6 linked regions of the Homo sapiens genome follow. The protein of the gene in region 2 purifies or fractionates together with the protein of the main gene of each other region. This does not show direct contact. Each region holds a gene or a part of one and is shown on either strand. Other genes may lie near its edges.

Region 1 (3,500 bases), on a different chromosome or scaffold from region 2:
AAAAGTCAGCTATGCACCTGAGTGTTTTTTTTTTTTTTAAATAAACAAAATAAAGGGAAAATGCAAACACTTCTCCTTCTCTCAAAAGAAAAACACTATTATTCTTTTCGGAGAGAGGAGAAGGGGAGCAATTTCTGGTTTGAAAGATTGTGAATATCTTCAGAAGACTAACATATTTGAGAAAAATCCTAATTCTTCTAGTGTATATGTCTCCTTATAGGAGGAAGCTGGACTTGATCTTAAATTCGGTGCCTGAAAGAAAACCATTTTTTCTGATTACTGAGATGTTATTCTGATGTTTTTCATAGTAAGGCTAAGGATCAGATTTTTTAAAAAAGTCTGTCCTAACAGGACTAAGCTACAAATGATGCCACTCATCGGAACAGAAGAAGCACTTTGCTTGGGAGGGCCTTTGAAGTGCTGAGCTTAAGAACAAGTCTCATTTGCCTACAGGTCAAAAAGCTTTTATAGTTCTTCCTTTTACATCTGCTTTCTATAGCTGCACATGACTTGCTTTCTACACCTACACTTACCACCTCTGTGTCCCATGTTAAAAACATTTATTTAAATAGCTTTTACTAGGTGATTTTTTTTTTCTTTTAAAGAAAACAGCCTGACAGCTTTGGGATCACGACTGGCATCTGTTACTATGGAACCACCTGTTACCTGGTCTCTTTTTGTACAGTGGAGAGGACAGCGGAGGGGAGGGACTCACAACAAAACCAACAATAAAAGCAAACAAACAAAAAACCCCAATTTCTGCTCTCAACAAACAAACAAAAACCAACTTTTGTTCCAAACTTAAATTCCAATTGCAATTAAGGACTCAAAGAATACTTAATTTGGGAAGACCCCATTCTAGGTCATCTTATTTGCTGCTATTGGCTCCTCCACTTACCAGATTGTTGCTTCAGCTGCTCTTTTTGGATTGCCGCAAACTGTTTGGCATCAGCCAGGGAGCCAAAAAGAGCAGCAAAGGGGTTACTTGAGATGTTGTTGTTATTCTCCTGGTCTGTCATTTCACTTTAAGGTATCCTCCATCCAGACCTAGTGGGAGAGGCTGTTCAAAGGACAGGTATTAGACACAAGAGGGCAGATGACACAATAGCTGTAATATACCTGTGGTTGTTTCTTTTCCCATTTCTCAAATACAATACATTTTAAAATACTTTGGGTTAAGATTTTCCAATTCCTGTCCCCAAACTCAAGACATTTTTGGCAAAATGGTTACAAACCTACCAGCTGGACTCGGTGGCTTGATTTGTGGATAGCTGAAACTAAAAAGGCTAAAACGTTCAGCTGGAATGCATTAATCTGTTGATATACTTTTATTTGCAATACCTTTAAGAAAACAGGTTAAGTAGAAAGAATTATTGAAGTCAAAGAGAGAACTCACCTACTAATTGTAATAACAATGTGGCACTGAAAAATAATAAGACAAGAATTATGGATTTCCCAAGAATTAAGCTGGCAGTCTAGTTCTCATTCACTGGGGTGAGGACAAGGGACTTCTATGACTTAGGGCTGGGGATGGATATTTCTCAGCTACATATAAATTAAGTAAAAGCCCATATCTTAGATTTGGACTCTGGCAAATCAGGACTGGAAGCAGTTCAGCTGTATGTTGTGGGTTTTTAACATAGATTAAGCAATCTATTTATTTCTAGGCTTAAAAATACTGATATTTCTTCCACTAAAAATTAAATGGTCTTTGCTTCATGCTATATCTAACCTTCACTGTTTACCTGATTTCTTAAAATAATACTGAAGAAACACGAATTCCAACGGTCAGGTCTACTGTGTAATATGAAATATAGATACCTCAAAGGTGTTTAGTAGAGCTGGCTGAGCCTGCATTCACACTCTTCTGATTACATTTCCTCATTCAAGACCAAGTGAACTCAGTGGCACAACAGAATAAACAGGGCTCCCTGAAAGGCTTTCTCCCCTTTCTGAAATTTTAAGGCCATGACATAGAAATATTAAATACAACACTGAAAAGGGTGGGAAGAGACAAAGGGTATGAATGTTTTGTTCATAAGGATCTTGAACTGCTATAAGGACAGAGACCTTAGAAATAGCGGGAGTAGGGGTATAAAGGAAGAAAAAAAGAACATTTGGTCTACCTTTGGTTTATTGAGGCAAGACTCCTCACAGGATCATATCAACAAAAGCTAATGTGGGCCAGGTGCAGTGGCTCATGCCTGCAATCCCAGCACCCTGGGAGGCTGAGGCAGGTGGATCACCTGAGGTCAGGAGTTCAAGACCAGCCTGGCCAACATGGTGAAACCCCATCTCTACTAAAACACGAAAATTAGCCAGGCATGGCGGCAGGTGCCTGTAATCCCAGCTACTTGGGAGGCAGGAGGCTGAGGCAGGAGAATTGCTTGGACTCGGGAGGCAGAGGTTGCAGAGAGCTGAGATTGTGCCACTGCACTTCAACCTGGGTGACAGAGCGAGACTTCGTCTCAAAAAAAAAAAAAAAAAAAAAAAGCTAATGTGGTCGAAAAAGTTACCCTTATTTACCAGAGAAAGAGATTATTTATAACATTTCTTGACAATTCTGAGGCATCTTCAGCACTTGCTTCATGCTCCTCTGCCATTTTTTCCACACAAGAGCTAACGGCTAATTAGCTGTAATGACTTAGGCAGTCTAGTCTCCTCTCAGTGCAGCTCAAAGCTTTACTGCTTCAAGGAATTGAACTGTTATTTGGATTTTTAGTAGAGACGGGGTATCACCATGTTGGCCAGGCTGGTCTCGAACTCCTGACCTCAAGTGATCCTCCCACCGCGGCCTCCCAAAGTGCTGGAATTATAGGCATGAGTCACTGCGCCTGGCCTTCTGTATTTTATTTTTTGCTATGTATATTTCAGTAAGCTTAATAATGCAAAAAAAGGGAAAGATACCATATTTAGTATTGAAATTAATGAGAGGGATTTTCCCCATGTAATTACCGCACAAGTTTAATTATTACCTGTAGTTAATGTAAAAACACCAAGAATTGTCTTATTGTTAGCTGACCACCATTCTACTTCCATCCTAAAATACCACAAATTCCAGAGGAATGCAAAAAGTATATTGAGCTCTTGTTATTTCTCTCTCTAAAACATCACATTCATTTTTTTCCTTTGGGTATCCACTCCACTCAATCCAGAAGAGGCTGACCAGTTCAGAAGGGGTTGACCTCACCCACTAGCCCCAGGAATGAACATACAAGTCTGGCCAGGCTAAAAAGAATACAGCATTTTCCAGCCAAAGCAACTGATCCAGGAGTGGGCACAAGACACTATGGAGGCCTAACAGAGTCAATGAATACCAGCTTCAGGACTTCAGCTGAATCTACGGAAAAGTGAGTTTTCTCCTGATTGAGTTGATAAGCCAGTAAGATAGAGTTGCCATCTTTACACCATTTAGAAAAGGCCTAGCCTAAAACCAAGCCAACATACACTAGAAAACAGAATTGAGAGATGGAAAGATAAGTCTGGACTTTTCAGTTATA
Region 2 (4,166 bases):
AGCTCAGAGGGAGAAGTGGTCCCTGCTACCCTCTGTCCCCAGCTCGCCAGTCCCAGGCTGAATGTAATTGTCCTCGATGAAGCCATCATCATCCTCATCTTCAGCCACCTGTGGGCGGCCTCCCCTTCCTGTCTCAGGCAGTGGGCGGTGCCGGTAGCTGGCATGGTATCGGCGGCAGAGGTGGCATTTGGCAGCAAGTGCAATGAGGAGCGAGAGGACCACAGCCCCCAGCACAAATCCTACCAGCACAGGCCATGCCCGAGCCCCAGTGCCTGGGCCAGGGGCCACAGCAGACGCTGTGGGGAGCTCCGAAGGCCCAACAAGTGCTGCAGAGAAAGGGACAGCATTATAGGTGGGCCCCAGAGGGGGCTCCCTGGAGAAACCAAGAGCAGTGCAGGTAGGGTCCTTCCCCCAACCCCAGCATCTAAGGGGAAGCCCCCCACCCCCATCATCCTCCCACTGTCACTCACTTTTGTTTGTCTCATTCATGGAGGGGCCTGATGACACCAGTGAGTCTCAGCCTCAACCAGAAAGAGCCCTGGCTCTGAGGAGGCCCCCAGATGCCAGGCAGCCCCAGGGCACAAGTCCTAGAAAATAACATAGGTATGGGTGTCAGGGATGGTCACAGGGTGCACTTTCCAGGTCACACTCACAGCCATGGTAGCCCTGCACAAACTCTGGGGACTGGACAACTGACCACACCAGCTCTCCACAGAAGAGAAACAAGCTGAGCCTACAGAAACTGGCTATTTGTAAGGGACCATCACAGGGTTTGGCTCTGGAAGCTGCTAAAAAAAAAATAAATTGTAGAACTTACTGAGCATTCCTTATAATTCAAGCACCAGGCATCATGCTCACAAAACCCAGTAAGGTAAGTATAAACATTATCCCCACTTTATAGATGAGGGCTCTGAGGCTGAAAAAGGTGAACTGACTCAACTAAAGTCTTCAGATTCGAACCCAGAGCCCAGTCTGTTGCACTGCTTGGTAAGCTGAGGATGGGAGACAGGGGCAGAGGTGGGTCCTGGCTCCCGAAGGTCAGAAAACAGCAATTGCTTGGAGCTACCCAGCCAAAGCGGAGACCACATATGGGGAGGGTGATGCAAGTTGCTACTGAGGACAGGGGCCCTGGACACAGCCAGAGCAGCCCTGGCCCTTCTAAGTTGAAAGCCGCTGCTGCCCACCTCTACCCTCAGCCCTTCAAGCAAACCCCTGTCCTTTCACCTCTACTCAAAGGAGGCCCACACTCTGCCCCCACAGGGAGGCTCAAGCCAGGGAGTATCCAAATGAGGATCACCTGAATCAGGAAATTATCACCCAGGGCTGGGGACACCTAGAGGAGGAACACTTCAATTAGGGGAGTAGCTGGAGGAAGATCATCCAGGCATGGAAACACCTGTAGGAGGAGCACCTGGATCAAAGGAGTGTCTGGAGGAGGCGCACCTGAATCTGGGGAGTATCTAGAGGAGGAGCATGAAAGTTAGAAGTACCTGGCAGACGAACAGCTAGGGCAGGAGCATATCTGCCAGTGGAGCACCTGAACCAGGGGAGTCCTTGGGGGCAGAGTAGCCGGGCTAGGGAAGTACTTAGGAGAGAAGTTGAGGGGAGTACCCCAGTATATTCTTTGATACAAGTGCCTTCAAACCCCCCCCAACCTCCTCACATCCAACCTGGTATCAATCCCCATCATGTCTTCCACTAAACATCTCTGGAATGACAATACCCTCTTCTCCACCCCACTGCCACAGCTGAGTCCAAGCCACCTTCCTCTTGTACTCTAGCCATAATCTCCTAACTGGGCTCCCCACCTCTGGTCTCTTCCACAGAGTGATGGGCCTACAACCCAAATCTGACCCCATCACTAGCCTGGTTAAAATCCCTTCAAAAGCTCCCCATGCCCCACAGTGCCTTGCAATCCAGCACACGGCCCTCAAGCCAAACTCTTCTTCCTCTTCTCCACAGTTCCCTCCCCAGCACTTCAGACAGACACACATGCCCTCCTCCCACTCACCCACCCTCCTGCTCCCTGGCCACGCCCTCCTCAGTTTTTGGGGCGCCAGTCTGTCAAGGCCAAATCAGACCATACCTGCCTGTGAGGTTGTCCCTGGACCTACCCTGGATGACCTGTCACCATCCTGCCCAGTCAACCACCAGTCAGAACCAGTCATTGCTAGGCGGGCAGCTCCCCGTGGGCAACGGCTGGCTGAAGGATCTGTACCCTGGCGCTGCAGGGAGCTGGGCGTTCAGCCCCTCAGTGTGGTGCTTGTGAAATTAACGAGGGGAGCGTGAGAGTGAATATACAGGTGGGAGCGGGAGAGACGTCCTGGGAAGGAGAGGTCAGCTGCTCATTCATTCCTCAGCCTGCTGTGGGCCTCATCCTAGTACTAGGTCCGCAAAACATGAGAATGTGTTACACTGGAATGAACTGAATTCAATTTGACGTTTCTAAGGTTGTATTCCTATTCCTTTCCTCCCTGCCCTGTGAATTCTTCCCAAGAAGACACACACACACTAACCTTCCAAGGGTGCATATACACTCCCCAACAGGCCTCTGAACTCACAGCCCACACTGATCTGCCCATCCCCCATACGCACAGCCCCTCCCCCCAGGTCACACTTTCCTCCACCAACAAACACCCCTCTGACATGCACAGACACCTACCCCAACTCTGATGTGTAGCTTCCTTCCTGCTGCCAGAAGCCCCTTGGGTACTGTGCAGAGCCTGGGTACCCCCTCCCCGGCCCCCCCGGGCCTTCTCTTCTGTTCCCACCTTCAAGAACTGTGCACAATCCGCGGAGTAAGCTTCCGGCTGGGGCCGGCAGAACCTGGACAGGTGGGCGGGTCAAGGCAGAGCTTGACTCACCTGCGGAGGCAGTGGGCGGGGCTGAAGCTGCAGGTCTGGCAGAGGGCGGGCTGCGGCAGCGCCTCCAGTGGGGAGGGATAATTCTACCTCTCCCCCAAGCTTTTGCCAAGAACTTTATGGGTGTAGACCTCACCCTCACCCCCCAATGCTTGCGGTTTGTACAGCTGGGATCCAGAGAAGCGTCCAGCGGGCCCTAGAGGGGCAGACACCTCAGCAGGCAGGTGCTCAGGTTGATAAACAACTGAACGTCCGGTGACTGGTACAAAGTCCAGAGTTGAAGAGGGAGCTTTGCAGGCCTGTAAGGGTGGTGGGCTGGAACCAGAGCGGGTGGGGAGGGCATTCTTTCCAGGCAAAGCCAGGAGGACCAAGAACACTCCCAAATTGCCTACAAATGTGTGTGTAACTGTGTAGGGGGTGAGGGGTGGATCTGGATGGGGGCTCAGCCTTCATCTGGATCTCAGGATCCCGTGACCCCACAAGCCAGGCTCTGAACCTCTCCCGGGTGCTCTCTGATTCCCTTTAGCTTTACTCCTCGTCTCTGGGCCTGGTGCCCCCTGTTCTTCAAGCTCCAGTTCAGGAATCACCTTCCCTGAGTCCTCCCTCTACCCTGCAAGTCCCCACTCTTCCATGCCCAGAGCACCCACTGTCGCAGCATTCCTCATTATCTTGTGATTATTCGCTCTCCTGGGGTGGGGCCAGGCTTTGACAGCCTGTGGCTCCCAGCACAGTACTGACCCAGGGCAGGCTCCCCGTAACTACCTAAGGGAGGAAGGACCGCACGCGCCAAGGCCTGGAGGCCCCGAATTCGCAAGGATAGGCCGGGCACAGTGGGAGCAAGGGCTGCAGAGAGGCCAAGTATGGTGGCTCACGCCTGTAATCCCAGCACTTTGGGAGGCCAAAGCGGGTTGATTGCTTGAGCCCATGAGCGGAGATCAGCCTGGGCAACATAGGGAGACCCCATCTCTACTAGAAACACAAAAATTAGCTGGGCGTGGTAATGCTCACCTGTAGTCCTAGCTACTGGGGAAGCTGAGGGGGGAGGACTGCCTGAGCCCAGAAGTTTTAGGCTACAGTGAGCCATGATTGCGCCATCACACTCCAGCCTGGGCGACAGAGCAAGACCCTGTCTCAAAAAAATAAAAGGGGGGTACAGAGAGGGGATGCAAACAAGGCATGGTAGAACTGTGGCTGGAAGGTGGGGGCCAGTTCACACTTGGCCCTGAAGATCTTAGGATGAAATCTGAACCCTCAGGGCCATCCCTTCCCACCTTTCCTGCCTCCTCTGCTGCAGCTACACCAAAC
Region 3 (4,191 bases), on a different chromosome or scaffold from region 2:
GCTCTAGGGTTTGAAGAAAAAAAAAAAGGGTCAGGCACAGTGGCTCACGCCTGTAATCCCACCATTCTGGGAGGCTGAGGCAGGCGGATCACCAGAGGTCAGGAGTTGGAGACCAGCCTGACCAACATGGAGAAATCCTGTCTCTACTAAAAATACAAAATTAGCCAGCCACGGTGGCTCAGGCCTGTAATCCCAGCTACTCGGGAGGCTGAGGCAGGAGAATCGCTTTAACCCAGGAGGTAGAGGCTGCAGGGAGCCAAGATCGAGCCACTGCACTCCAGCCTGGGCAACAAGAGCGAAACTCCGTCTCAAAAAAAAAAAAAAAGTACTTCTAAAGTTAAAATATTACAGAAACATACCCCAAAAAGCTGCTTTAGTAAAATTATCTTGTATAGTTGTCCAATCACGAAAACTATTCAATGTTCATCCCAAACATTAACTTTCTACATGAACTTATTTCTACACCCATTTTCTTTGTTAATTTAACAAAGATTGTATTATTTATATCAACAAAGCATCCAAGCCAGCAGGTAAGTTTCAGTAAGAATGTAAAAGTACGTTCATACTTTTGACTGAATCAAGATTGTTCTTATATAAAGTTCATTTCAGTGCTTTCTTTCTCACTGAGAGGGCCATTCTATTCATGCTAATACTCTTCTGTTCTTGAAGAGGATTTGTTTTTACAGTTCATTGATTAGCAGGGCTGTAAAGTTTCAATTCATTAATCTGTCAACTGAGGCAGGCTCTGAGCCAATGGTAGCAGAAGAGTTCCCATTGTTACTTAGCGAATCCTTTGGGAATTACCTTTTCAAATAGTCTTCTTCTCCTTCAACTCTCAAATCAGAAGCCAATGTGGGCCCCTAACCTATTTTCCAGAATGTTCAAGAATTGCAATTTAGTTAATATTTCAGTTCCATTCCATATTTCAAATATCCCAAGAGCCTTTCACTTTAACCAAGTTCTGACTTTTTTTCTTTTTTTTTTTTTTTTTGAGACGGAGTCTTGCTCTGTCGCCCAGACTGGAGTGCAGTGGCGCGATCTTGGCTCACTGCAAGCTCCGCCTCCCGGGTTCACGTGATTCTCTTGCCTTAGCCTCCCGAGTAGCTGGGACTACAGGCGCCCACCACCATGCCCAGCTAATTTTTGGTATTTTTAGTAGACATGGGGTTTCACCGTGTTAGCCAGGATGGTCTCGATCTCCCGACTTCGTGATCCGCCCGCCTCGGCCTCCCAAAGTGCTGGGATCACAGGCATGAGCCACTGTGCCTGGCCAAGTTCTGACTTTTAACAAGCGAATTTAACAAAGTGACTTTTTTTTTTTTTTTGAGATGGGGATCTCACTCTGTTGCCCAGGCTGCAGTGCTGTGGCATGATCTCAAACTCAAGTGATCCCCCCACCTCAGCCTCCCAAGCAGCTGAGACCTCAGGCGTGTACCACCATATCCGGCTAATTTTTTAATTTTTTTGTAGAGAAGGGGATCTCACTATGTTGCCCAGGCTGCTCTCCAACTCCTGGGCTCAAGTGATCCTCCTGCCTCAGCCTCCCAAAGCGCTGGGATTACAGGCATGAGCCACGAGCCACCGCGTGCGTACCAGGCCACAAAGTGACTAAAAGGTGATTTCAGGTATGTAAACACTGTAAAACATAACAAAAAAGAGATTCTTCATCTGTGAGATGAAGAGTTCAGAAAGAAATATTAATACACATTGACCTAAATCTCTAAACCCCTTGGGATAGTAACAGTAAAATAGATAAATACGTGCGCTTAAGTGCATACACTAAGCAGACTGAAAATGCAACACTGTAGCAGCGATTTGCCCAGCACTGTATACAGCCCAGACAGTAAAAGAAGCTACAAGGCAGGTAGCCGCATCAACACTGTCTCTTACACTCCAATTTAACGGCCACAATAAACTGGTTCTTCATAAGCTAATAAAGTGTGTCTATCTAACTGAGTGTGACAAAGTTGTAGAAGGAACCACACCAGGAGAGGTGAGCCTTACTGCCCTGAAAGCTTTACTGTCCCAGATGCCCTTTCAGGCAACTAACACCCAAAGATGACTGACGTGGAGCAGGAGGGAAGATAACTAGGAAGATGGGCAGAGAATAAAAGAGAAAAGTTTACAGCTTAAGAGGAAGAGAAGCCACAACGCGAAGTGCGAGACTGCTCATTGTAATACCTGCCTATTAAAAAACTCTTTACAGCTTACACAGGGTTTATAGCTGCTCTGTAACCACCACCCCGTCATTAGCCACACAGAAAACCAGGGCTCGGAGAGCTGAGTGTCACGCCCAAGGTCAGGCAAAAAGCTGGGGCTGCAATCCGGGCCCTATCCCGAGAGAGCAACTAAGGAATGACAAGGGGGCACCTGGAAGGGAAGTCAGGTGCGGGCACGGAGGTGCCCCTAGGAACTCCAGAAGGTCGCAGGTGTGCGGCGGGGTGGAGACAGAGCGGCGGAACCGACGGAAGGACAGGGCACGCCGGGGGCCAGAAGTGGCCGGGAGACCCGGGAGTGAGCAGCCCGCCCGGCCCAGCCCGCCGCACTCACCCGAGGCCCGGGCGGGGTCGCCCGGCGCTGCGGCTCCTCCCGGCCTGCGGCGGCGGCGGCGGCGACTGCAGCGGCCGAGGCAGGGACGCATCATGCGGCCGCGCTCATGGCCGGGCTGGAGCGGGCCCCGCGGCTCGGCTCGGCTTGGTCCCCTGGGTCCCGCCGGGCAGGTCGGAAGGAGGCTGCAGCCAAGCAAATGCCTCAGCCCGGAGCCTTGGCTGGAGAGCGGGGCGGTGCGAGCGCCGGAAGTGAACCCGACGAGGTCAGTGACGTCACGCCGGCGCAGTTCCGGCCGCGCAGCTCTCGCGGAGAGGGGCGCTCGAGGCGGTTTGAGGGGACCCGGAGGCTCTTACAAACTGGCAGTTCATTGAGAAAAGGCAGCTTTTAGTCACAGCCCCTCTCGCTAAGACAGAGATGCCGCCAAACTGAAGTCCGGAGGAGAAAGGATAGGGGCTACGGGCTGCAGCAGGGTCCAAGCCACGCCGTTAGGCTGCGGAACCGGGTTGGGAATGCCCTTAGCGGAGTGTGTACCCGCGCCCGCGGCGGTGTCTCAGAGGCAGCTCCAGTGGCCTGTACTATATGCGGGGATGTGACCGAAGGAAATGGGAAAGTAAGGGAGCGGGAGTGGAAATGGCTGAGCCAGAAAGCACTTGGGAAAAGAGGAAAGCGCCCTGAACTGGGGATTGGAGGCCTGACTCCTGAGGTCCGCGGAGCCCCCGGCCTCCTCCTTGAGGGACTTGGACACTAGAGCACCGCCACTGTCCCTTCCATATAGGAAGCCCTAAGTGTTTGAAAGTAGGAACATGTATTTTAAGGCCGGGCGCGGTGGCTCACGCCTGTAACTCCAGCACTTTGGGAAGCCAAGGCAGGCTGATCACTTGAGGTCAGGAGTTCGAGACCAGCCTGAACAACAATGGTGAAATTCCGTTTCTATTAAAAACACATAAATTAGCCGGATGTAGTGGTGCACGCCTGTAATCCCAGCAGCTACTCGAGAGGCTGAGGCAGGAGAATCATGAACCCAGGAGGCGAAGGTTGCAGTGAGCTGAGATCAAGCCACTGCACTCCAGCCTGGGCGACAGAGTGAACAGTCTCAAAAAAAAAAAAAAAGCATATCTTTTTTTTAAAATAAAATTATGACTCTCACACAAATATAAAATGAACATATGTCAAAGATACCATTTAACTCATTAATGATGGTATATATACAATGCTCCACTAGAGCTCTAGATAGCTTAAAGACAAAAGTAAGACCCCATAAGACGAGATAACCCAGAAGGGTATGCCAGACAATACCTACTTGTTCAATGAAGACACCTAAAGAAAACCAGAATAAGGCCAGGTGTGGTGGCTCACATCTGTAATCCCAGCACTTGTAGGAGGCCGAGGCAGGCAGATCACCTGAGGTCAGGAGTTCGAAACTATCCTGGTCAACGTGGCGAAACCCCATCTCTACTAAAAATACAAAAATTAGCCGGGTGCAGTTTTGGGCGCCTGTAATCTCAGCTACTCGGGAGGCTGAGGCAGGAGAAACCGCTTGAGAACCGGGAGGCAGAGGTTGCAGTGGGCCGAGATCGCGCCATTGCACTCCAACCTGGGTGACAGCGAGACTCCATCTCAATGAAAAAAGAAAAAGAAAAA
Region 4 (3,500 bases), on a different chromosome or scaffold from region 2:
ATTTCACAGGAGCAAAGGAGACCACACTAAGGTCAGGGTTTCCTTGAGAGAGGCGACAAGAAAGACTGAAAAATGTCACAGCTTGGAATCTGATTGCTTAAATACATCCTCTATTCTAGTCTTATAAGCTTTTCAGCTGGTAAATCAAAATCCTGTTATACACTAGGATAATATTCATGACAATTCCCTATATTTTATCTTCTTAAAATCAAAGACTCAATTCTAAAGGGTTAATAGAGGAATTACAAAGTAACTCTCTAGTTTGCATTTCCCATAATGCTAAAATAAAGCTTTTTCTTTTAGTCTAGAAATTTGCTTTTTTAATACTGTGAAAAGCCTCTATGAATCTGTTTAACGTATTTATTTCTTTTCATCTATTCAATGCCACTGGGCATAACATGTAATGCAGTGCGTGTTGATATTTTGCAAAGCACCACATGACTCACTGTACCCTAATGCACTCCATTAATCCTGTTTGGACAGCTGGGTCCAGGCATTTGTTAGCTGCATTTTAATTGTTCCATCTTTCTTTTTTTTCTTTTTATTTATCTCTATGGCAAACTACTCTGGAATTTAATTTGTTGGCCTTCAAAAAGTAAATTTTACCATTAGTTTGTTTTCTTTGTGTTAAAACTATACTCAGCATGTAATTTTCTTCCATAAAATCGGTATATATTAATGATTAGCAATCAATCTTAAATAATAGTACAGTGAATGAGTTTCCTAAGTATTAAAATGATAGGTTGGCTGAAATATAACAGAAATTATTTAATAGACTGTCATAATATAAATGATAACATTTAACATCAAATCAGGTTGCTAAAGAGCATACTTTTGGCATTTTCAAGATTCACATAAGCAGATGTCAAAACAATTACAAGTCCTATAAAGCAAACACAAAAGAAATAAGACTATTACACACACCAGTTTTTTATTAGCTTATGGAACAGTGGTCCCTTTACATTTATACTTTTTGTTTTCTATTACAAACATGAAATCCTTTGTAAGAATTATGAAGATAACTACAAAGCTTCTACTTTCTTTGCACAGCCTGCATCCCTGGTATCTGTAAGTCTTCAATAAATAATGGAGGCAATATGAGAGCTAATGCAAAAGCAACTCAAAGTTACCAGCAATTTTTGTTATGAGCAAGTAGCTAAAATTTAATGATCAAAATTTTCCAATCATTCGTGTGCACTCTTAAGTCAAAACCTAAGTCTAGAGAATTAGATAGAAATGCTTAATGGAAACTTTTGTCTGAAATAATATTTAGTGAAGAACTCAGAATATGGTCTACAATAGCATTTTATAAAAGACAACTAAGGGAAGACTTACTCAACTATTTCAATGACAAAGCAAAAATCTGTTTTTCTTTTAAAAGATTATCAAATTCTCCGTAAACTGAAACAATAAGAAAATGACAGAAATGAATGACAGGCAAGTAGGAACTCTCAAGGGTGTCCTTTGAATCAGAGTGTGTTCTCAGAGATTACACTGCGTTCACCTCTATTTTGTGGACACAAAGCAGCTTAAAATAATTTACAAATTTTCAATTTTTTAAACCATACTAAATTATAAACGCTCAAAAGCTTTTAAATAGAAAAATTAGTTTAATGCAGTTTCCTCACTAGAGGACTCGAAAGCCTAACTTATAGATGTGTCAGTAAAAACAAAATACAACAAAAACCAGCCCGTTGTTTGGAGAAAGAATGCTTTTAAGTGTTTAAAAAATAAGTAGTCATTATTTGATAAAAGTATTTGTCTTGGTATGCCCCTATACATAAAGTATAGAAGTAAAAGTGTAAAATAATGTAGGAAGAAACACTGTATTTCAAAGGTAATCTTTATGAGTAAATGTTAAATAAGTTCAGTAAAGACAGTTTTTAAAAACATGGATCTTTAAGTGAAAATTTCTCACTGAAACTTACCCAGTGTTCTCGACATCACAGGCAGAGCAGAGCTCAAAACCAAGATGGACACACAATTTCCAATGATCTGTTATGAGAAACGAGAAAGAATATTGGGCAGTTAAACAGCAGGATGACAATCAAACCCAGTAACATTCTGAGAAATGATTGTGCATTCTAGTTACCTAGTGTACTTTGCCGATTTCTTAATGATACTATTCAGTACAGAATTTTCAAAGAATAACACACTTTTAAAATAAATAAAGTTATATCTGTAAGTTCTAGAAGATGTTTACAGTACCTAGCACAGATATAGTTATAGAATACTTAAATTACTTGACACCTAGATAATGCACTTTACATTACTGATTGCAGCTGTTACTTTCAAAAGGCTCTGCCTGTCAAGCAAAAAATAATTAACATATTGGATACTTCTGACTACATTTTTAAGGCCAGATTATTGCTTAAGATCTCTTTTATCACATCTATTTCTAATGTTAATTGTAAGATTTAAAAAGCACCAGAAATCCAAAACCTCTAAACTTTTGTAATAATGCATCCCATGTTTATTCTTCCATAGTAAATAAGAGGAGTTGAAAATATCAATTAATATTTATGATCACTTAAACTAGATACTAAATATCTCAACTACTTATTAAGTTTAAAGAAATAGCTGTGTGTGTGTGTGTGTGTGTGTGTGTGTGTGTGTGTGTGTGTAAAATAACTTCTCCCCTTTAAGTAGGCTAAAAATATAAAATAAAAACAAAACAAGCTTTCAGCTCTTATTAGTTATTCTTCTTTGTCAGCCTACGGGAATATTTTATAAAGATTCAGTCACTATATACGGCAACAGCCTTTTTATTCTGAACCCAATGACATGTTGTGGAAAAAGTCAAATTAGCCTCAGACTACAAAATGTTTCTGAATAGAACTCTTCCGTCTTACTTTAATTATTCAAATTTGAAATACTTTGTCCCTACTACTTGTAGCAACTAAGTTCTTCAGACTTCAAACAAGCTCCCTGAAGTACAGTTAGCACAATCCAAGTTACTCATTAGCAATACGTTTTCTTTAGAGGAAAAAGAGTCCTTTCAGGAGCCTTCTATAGCTAGTTAACAAGCTCTGCAGTTCTCCGCATTTACAGTGAATGGACGCCATCCAAATTAAACAGGGTACATCCCTTTCCCACTCACTCAGCATTTTGAAAATCTTCCAGTTTGTGTTTACGCAACTTACAAACAAATACCTATCACTGCAAATGAACCATTCAGAATGACTATTAAATAAAGCAGTCTGTCAGGGAAGGCAAACGAGAGGCCACAGTCACCTAAGATTCTACCTTACCTTTGTCATAGTTGTGTCATCTTTCTTGGGAGTAAAGTTTCCAAAAAATCGAAGGCTATAGAAGCCGACAACAGAGGACACCATAAGATAGCTGTGAGAATCAAGGAAAAAAACTCTCCAACAGAATGCAAGTTTCCTAAGTTCTCGGCAGTCTCCAAAAAGTCTTAAGGCCCATAGGAAAAGCAAAACAAAAAGCCGCTTTAAGTGCTTGAGGAAGACTAACCTGTTGTTTTCTCTTCTAGACAAGTG
Region 5 (3,500 bases), on a different chromosome or scaffold from region 2:
AGGAGAGGGAGATTCATGCAAGCGGAGAATGGAGATGATTAAGAGAGTAAGTAGTTGCTAATTATGAAGGTATCTGTTTGCTGCTACTTGGGAGGCTGAGGCAGGAGGATTGCTTGAGCTCAGGAACTGAAAGCTACAGTGAGCTATGATCACGTGGCTGCACTCCAGCCTGGGCGACAGAGCGAGACTCTGTCTCAAACAACAACAACAAAATAACAGCACGGTACACAGAGCCCTATTCTCCTTGCTAATCTCCACACGCAGAAACTGAGGCTCAGAAAGGCTGAGGCACTTGCCAGGGCGCACAGCCATACCTATCCTCCAACTCTCCTGACCCAAGGACCACAGTCACATGACTATCTGTGCAGGCTGCAGGATTGTCCCTCTGGTGGTGCACCGGGAGTCCCAGGAACTCCCCTTACACCCCGCCCTGCGTGCGCCTTGGCGGAGCCTTCCGCGCCAGTCCAGGCTGTTTTATGTATCCCAGGGGCCCCAGGAAGAGGAGACAGTGGTCTTCCCTGAACTCCGAGACCTGCCCCGGGGCCCTGCCGGTGTGCACCTTGCCGTCCATGTTGGCAATGCTGCAGTTGCACTCGGTGGCGCCGTAGAACTCCCCGATTTGGCGTACGCCGAAGCGCTCCGTGAACTCCTCCCAGATGGCAGGACGCAGCCCGTTCCCCACCGCCAGGCGCACGCGGTGTCGCCTCTCCGCCTCGCGCACCGGCTGCTTCAGCAGGTAGCGGCAGATCTCCCCGATGTACTGAACCACCTGGGGGACGGGGTGAGGAAGTGGGTGATGGGACCGGCAGGCGGTGGGGAGCCCGGATCAGAGGAGAGACCCCGAGACCGCCCCACCCAGGGAGCTAATCCTATGAGCGGAACAGCCTAAGGATGATGATGGCTGCAGAATCGTCCACACTCCATTAGGGACCACATTGACTCCTAGGACTCGTTCAGTCTCTTGCAAAGGGTCTAGGATGCAGCTTTTTTTGTTGTTTTTTGGTTGGGGGTCTCCCTGTGCCGCCCAGGCTGGAGTGCAGTGGCATGATCACAGCTCACTGCAGCCTCTAACTCCTGGGTTCAAGTGATCTTCCAGCCTTAGCCTCCCGAGTAGCTGGGACTACAGATTTTTTTGTAGAGATGGGGGATCTCGCTCTGTTGCCCAGGCTGGTCTTGAACTCCTGGCCTCAAGCAATCCTCCTGCCTCAGCCTCCCAAAGTGTGAGATTCCAGGTGTGAGCCACTTGTGCCTGGCCGGATGCAACTTCTATCCAAGCAGATGCAGTGTCTTTCCTCCTCCCCCTACCCGCACCCCTTCGTGGTCCCTCGATTCTGCCAAGCAGCTTCCTGGAGATACCACATCCCTGTCTGAGCCTCAGCAGGCACACAGGGCAGGACTAGCAGGAGAGCTGGCACCCCGCAGGGCAACCCTCAGCCTGGAGCCTACACTGTCACCCAGAGCCCCCTGGCTGAGCCTGGGCTGGCCGGAGCGTCACCCCTGGGCAGACCACTCCCAGGTGCACCCACTAGGCTGCGCTGCGTCTGGACTGAGCCCCAGGTGCCCACGGAGCCACCTGCTCATGGGCTCCCCCTGCAGGACATCTTCCCTCCCTGCCACACATTCTCAAGCCCCGCAAGAGCTTCCTGGGGTCATCCACCAGGTGCCCCACGGTGCCTTTAAGAGTTCTCATCTCCAGTTGGGCTTCGGAATGACTCCCCCCCCGCCACTTTACAGATGGAGAAACCGAGGCTCACAGATGGTAAGGAACTGGAACGAGATCACAGAGCTGGGAAGTGGCAGAATTTGATTTGAACCCAGGCATCCCGGCCCCAGAGTGGGAATAAAACAGTTGCATGCCAGGGATTACCCACCAGATGGATCATAACAGCTGCAAATGTGCTCGGGGCTTCCCGCTCACACACAGGATGAAACCCACATTTCTTCCTGTGGCCAACTGGATCTGGCCCTGCCGCCCCTGCTGCCTCCTCTCCCTCCATCTCCGCTGAACACTCTGCCTCCTCAGGGACTTTGCACATGCTAGCCTTTTGCCTGAAGCAGTCTTCCCCCAGATGCATTTGCCTGAACTCTTCAGTCTCAGCTCAAACGTCACTGAGAGGCATCCCCTGTGCCCCCAGCTGTGCCCCTGAGAAGGTACTGACTAAATAGCTGATGACTAAACCAATATGATCAGCAGACACCACCGCCATGCTCTGAGCTGAGCTTGGAGATGAAGGCACTGAGGCCCAGAGAGGAAATGCAGTGCACCCAAGATCACTGGCTGCTGACCAACAGCAGGTCCCTAAGGGGGAGGGTCCTCTCCCTCCATTCTCAGACTTGGGCCACTGCCTTAGGTGTGGTACAGCCCACACCATCTCTAGGAGAGAACCTGGCCAATCAGCCCAGCCCCTCCTCAGCCAATATGACTGGCTTAAGAATGGGCACGGCCAGGCGGGGTGGCTCAAGCCTGTAATCCCAGCACTTTGGGAGGCCAAAGCAGGTGGATCACGAGGTCAGGAGATCGAGACCATCCTGGCTAACATGGTGAAACCCCGTCTCTACTAAAAAATACAAAAAATTAGCCGGGCGTGGTGGCACACTCCTGTAATCCCAGCTACTCGGGAGGCTGAGGCAGGAGAATGGCGTAAACCCGGGAGGCGGAGCTTGCAGTGGGCCGAGATCGCGCCACTGCACTCCAGCCTGGGCGACAGAGCGAGACTCCATCTCAAAAAAAAAAAAAAAATGGGCACATGGCTGGGCGCGGTGGCTCATGCCTGTAATCCCAGCACTTTGGGGGGCCGAGGTGGGCAGATCACTTCAGGTCAGAAGTTCGAGACCAGCCTAGCCAATGTAGTAATACCTCATCTCTACAAAAATACAAGAAAATTTTGCCAGACCTGGTGGCATGTGCCTGTAATCCCAGCTACTTGGGAGGCTGAGGCAGGAGAATCTCTTGAACCCGAGAGGCAGAGGTTGCAGTAAGCCAAGATCGCTCTATTGTACTCCAGCCTGGGGACAAGAGTGAGACTCCGCCTCAGAAAAAAAAAAAAGGCAAGGATTTTTACAGACAAGCTAGCAGGGAGGCTGTATCTGATCTAAATAGACCGTGAAAAACCGGTGAGGACCAGATGTGCCATCCGCATAGGGCGCAAATCTCTGGCAGCCCCCAACCCAATCTCTTATTATGCAGGTGAGTAGCTACTCTACGTTGCCTATTTTTTTTTTTTTTGGAAACAAAAAATCCTCGGTAGAACTTCCCTTCTAACAAAAAGCAGCCCAAGAAATCACTTATTTTCTAACAAAGAACAGCCTGGAAGATTGGGCTGCAAACACAAATAAGGAAGCTGGAAGCTTGCAGCAGGGGATGCCAGCAGCTGCACCGATAAAAAGGGCTACCTGTGGCCGGGCACGGTAGCTCACGCCTGTAATCTCAGCACTTTCGGAGGCCAAGGTGGGTGGATCACCTGAGGTCAGGAGTTCGAGACCAGCCTGGCCAACATGGT
Region 6 (2,352 bases), on a different chromosome or scaffold from region 2:
TCAACACTTTGACCTCCTCTGTGTCTAGTAACATTTGCATATAGTACAACTGAGCACATAGCACCAGAATATTGGAACAGATGCTTCTCCAAAGCCAAGGGTTGCCTTACATTTAGAGTGGGAAAAGAGGAAAATGAGTTAGCAGAGGAGCAGCGGGGAGGGGGGTAAATTACAGGACATAATTTGCTTCTAAAAATTTGTGTTTCGTGTTGTAGTTATATAATTAACTTTTCTATTGTACTGATTGACAGATTTGGCACAGACATCCTCTCATTGTGAATATATATGAATATATCAGAGTTTTGGACTCTGGGGTATATTTACATAAACACAAGTATTCTGAAAGCATTGATAACCACACTGGTGTCTCTTAATTTTGTCTATAAGATGACCTTATAAAATCCCTCAAGAATTATTTAAATCAAGTGTACGAAGCTCTGCAGTTTTTTGTTATGTCTGAAATATTCATTAAAAAGTTTATTAAACCTGACAGCCTCTTCTTAATGTTTCACAAGCAAGACAAACTTTTATTTTTGTTTCTTCTTTAATTGGCATATGGAGCTTGGGAATATTAGTAGGAGAACAAGGAGACTATGTGAGGCATATAAAAGGCACCACACTGGAAAGAATCCAAGAGAATGAAAAATCACTTCTTTAAATAATATTTAGACACAGACTTTGTATCTATATTAGATATAAATCATGTCTAAATACAAATCTAAATAATATTTACAAATAATTATTACACAAAACCTATGTAACACACACTTTATAGTACACAACTGTAAATAAGAATACAAATCTCCACTGCTGTGGGTTCAAAACAGCAGGCTTGGACCACTCAAAAATGACATCTGAGAGGAATTAATAGTCATCCTGAAAGTTCTGCAGACAGACGCTAGCGGACAAACCACTTTGACACTTTTCATGCTATCATTCAGAAAAAAATAGAATACATGTAATACCAAATTAGGAACACTGATAATGAACATATATGCAAATTATATCTTCCAATGATATATCTGTGATATATGAAAATAATTTTGAAGAAATAAGCTTAAAATATAATTTACGGAATTCCAGAAAACTTTTTCTTCCTTCACTACATCCTCAGGAATAAGGCAATTGAGTGGATAACAGTTTGAATCTTACTTCAAAGTGTAGCTACAAAGTAAGAAAAAGCACTGGGCCAGGAGTCAGAATATCCAGGTTATAATCTTGATTCTTTCATGAAACAGCTTTGTGACACTGAAGGAATCTACTAAATTCTTTAGATTTAAATTGTTCTTGTCTGTAAAGCTGAAAATAAGAGAGAACTGGGCTAATCTGTAGGGTTCCTTTCACTCCAATTTCTACCAGTCTTTTTCTAAATGGGATCATCTCTAACAAAAAGTTACAATGGTGTGTCAGAACATCCTGTGACTGACCCTCTGTTTGCTGCTTTTTGATCTGATGACAGATGGCTTGGAGATGTATCAACAACATAATTGGGAGTAGATAAGCTGGCCACATTGATGAATGACTGAGAGGAGACTGCAAAGAAATAATATACCGTTTCATTTGCCCCTTAACACAAAGATGAATCAGCCTGTGGATGGGGTCAATTCACTGAACTAGAAAGGATTGATTATATATGCATAAAGTGCAAAAGCTATAGGTCTTTATAGCCATATCTGCTCACACATATATTCACTTTTCCATGCTAGTTATTCAGGATAGAAGGTGCATTAAATTTATACCAATTCCTAGCTACTGGCCTAGTAACTAACAATCTACAGAGTTGTAATGCATTAATAAATATAGGATTATAGAAGACATTTAGTATGTGATGTTACCTTTAAGTAACTCTCATAATTTTCTTTTTCCTTTTTTTCTTTTTTGAGATGGAGTTTTGCTTATTGCCCAGGCTAGAGTGCAGTGGCACAATCTTGGCTCACTGCAACCTCTGCCTTCCAGTTTCAAGCAATTCTCCTGCCTCAGTCTCCCAAGTAGCTGGGATTACAGGTGCCTGCCACCAGGCCCAGCTAATTTTTTTGTATTTTTAGTACAGACAGGGTTTCACCATGTTGTTCAGGCTGGTCTCAACTGCTGACCTCATGATCCACCCATCTCGGCCTCCCAAAGTGCTGGGATTACAGGTGTGAGACACCGCACCCAGCCCTTAACTGTCGTAATTTTCAAAGTAGTTTCATCTACTTTCCATCTCATTCCAACTCTAAAAGGTAGTAAGGACTGGAATTAACAACTCCAGATTACAGATGAAGAATCTGAGACTCAGAAAGATAAAGGAGCAGCTTTAGTGTCAAAAGGTCAGAAGTTTGTAAATGAAGAAGCTGAAGGTAGGCCCAGATG

What was found.
Region 1: the proteins of C1orf210 (region 2) and UBE4A purify together in Homo sapiens (affinity purification with mass spectrometry; one large-scale study listed by BioGRID and IntAct). This does not show direct contact.
Region 3: the proteins of C1orf210 (region 2) and ZDHHC7 purify together in Homo sapiens (affinity purification with mass spectrometry; one large-scale study listed by BioGRID and IntAct). This does not show direct contact.
Region 4: the proteins of C1orf210 (region 2) and LMBR1 purify together in Homo sapiens (affinity purification with mass spectrometry; one large-scale study listed by BioGRID and IntAct). This does not show direct contact.
Region 5: the proteins of C1orf210 (region 2) and SLC27A1 purify together in Homo sapiens (affinity purification with mass spectrometry; one large-scale study listed by BioGRID and IntAct). This does not show direct contact.
Region 6: the proteins of C1orf210 (region 2) and ALG11 purify together in Homo sapiens (affinity purification with mass spectrometry; one large-scale study listed by BioGRID and IntAct). This does not show direct contact.

The regions. Positions count from the first base shown.
Region 1 is NC_000011.10:118,362,600-118,366,099, reverse strand, and holds part of UBE4A (ubiquitin conjugation factor E4 A), read right to left. Parts: intron 1,061-3,500; 5' UTR 1,020-1,060; coding exon 899-1,019; intron 1-898.
Region 2 is NC_000001.11:43,282,782-43,286,947, forward strand, and holds the start of C1orf210 (type III endosome membrane protein TEMP), read right to left. Parts: upstream 2,801-4,166; 5' UTR 2,663-2,800; intron 588-2,662; 5' UTR 490-587; coding exon 471-489; intron 327-470; coding exon 4-326; 3' UTR 1-3. UniProt on the Homo sapiens protein: May be involved in membrane trafficking between endosomes and plasma membrane.
Region 3 is NC_000016.10:85,008,736-85,012,926, forward strand, and holds the start of ZDHHC7 (palmitoyltransferase ZDHHC7), read right to left. Parts: upstream 2,801-4,191; 5' UTR 2,551-2,800; exon of another isoform or gene 2,371-2,550; intron 1-2,370.
Region 4 is NC_000007.14:156,722,184-156,725,683, forward strand, and holds part of LMBR1 (limb region 1 protein homolog), read right to left. Parts: intron 3,343-3,500; coding exon 3,252-3,342; intron 1,996-3,251; coding exon 1,929-1,995; intron 1-1,928. UniProt on the Homo sapiens protein: Putative membrane receptor.
Region 5 is NC_000019.10:17,494,524-17,498,023, reverse strand, and holds part of SLC27A1 (long-chain fatty acid transport protein 1), read right to left. Parts: intron 770-3,500; coding exon 560-769; intron 1-559. UniProt on the Homo sapiens protein: Mediates the import of long-chain fatty acids (LCFA) into the cell by facilitating their transport at the plasma membrane.
Region 6 is NC_000013.11:52,031,749-52,034,100, reverse strand, and holds the end of ALG11 (GDP-Man:Man(3)GlcNAc(2)-PP-Dol alpha-1,2-mannosyltransferase), read right to left. Parts: 3' UTR 501-2,352; downstream 1-500. UniProt on the Homo sapiens protein: GDP-Man:Man(3)GlcNAc(2)-PP-Dol alpha-1,2-mannosyltransferase that operates in the biosynthetic pathway of dolichol-linked oligosaccharides, the glycan precursors employed in protein asparagine (N)-glycosylation.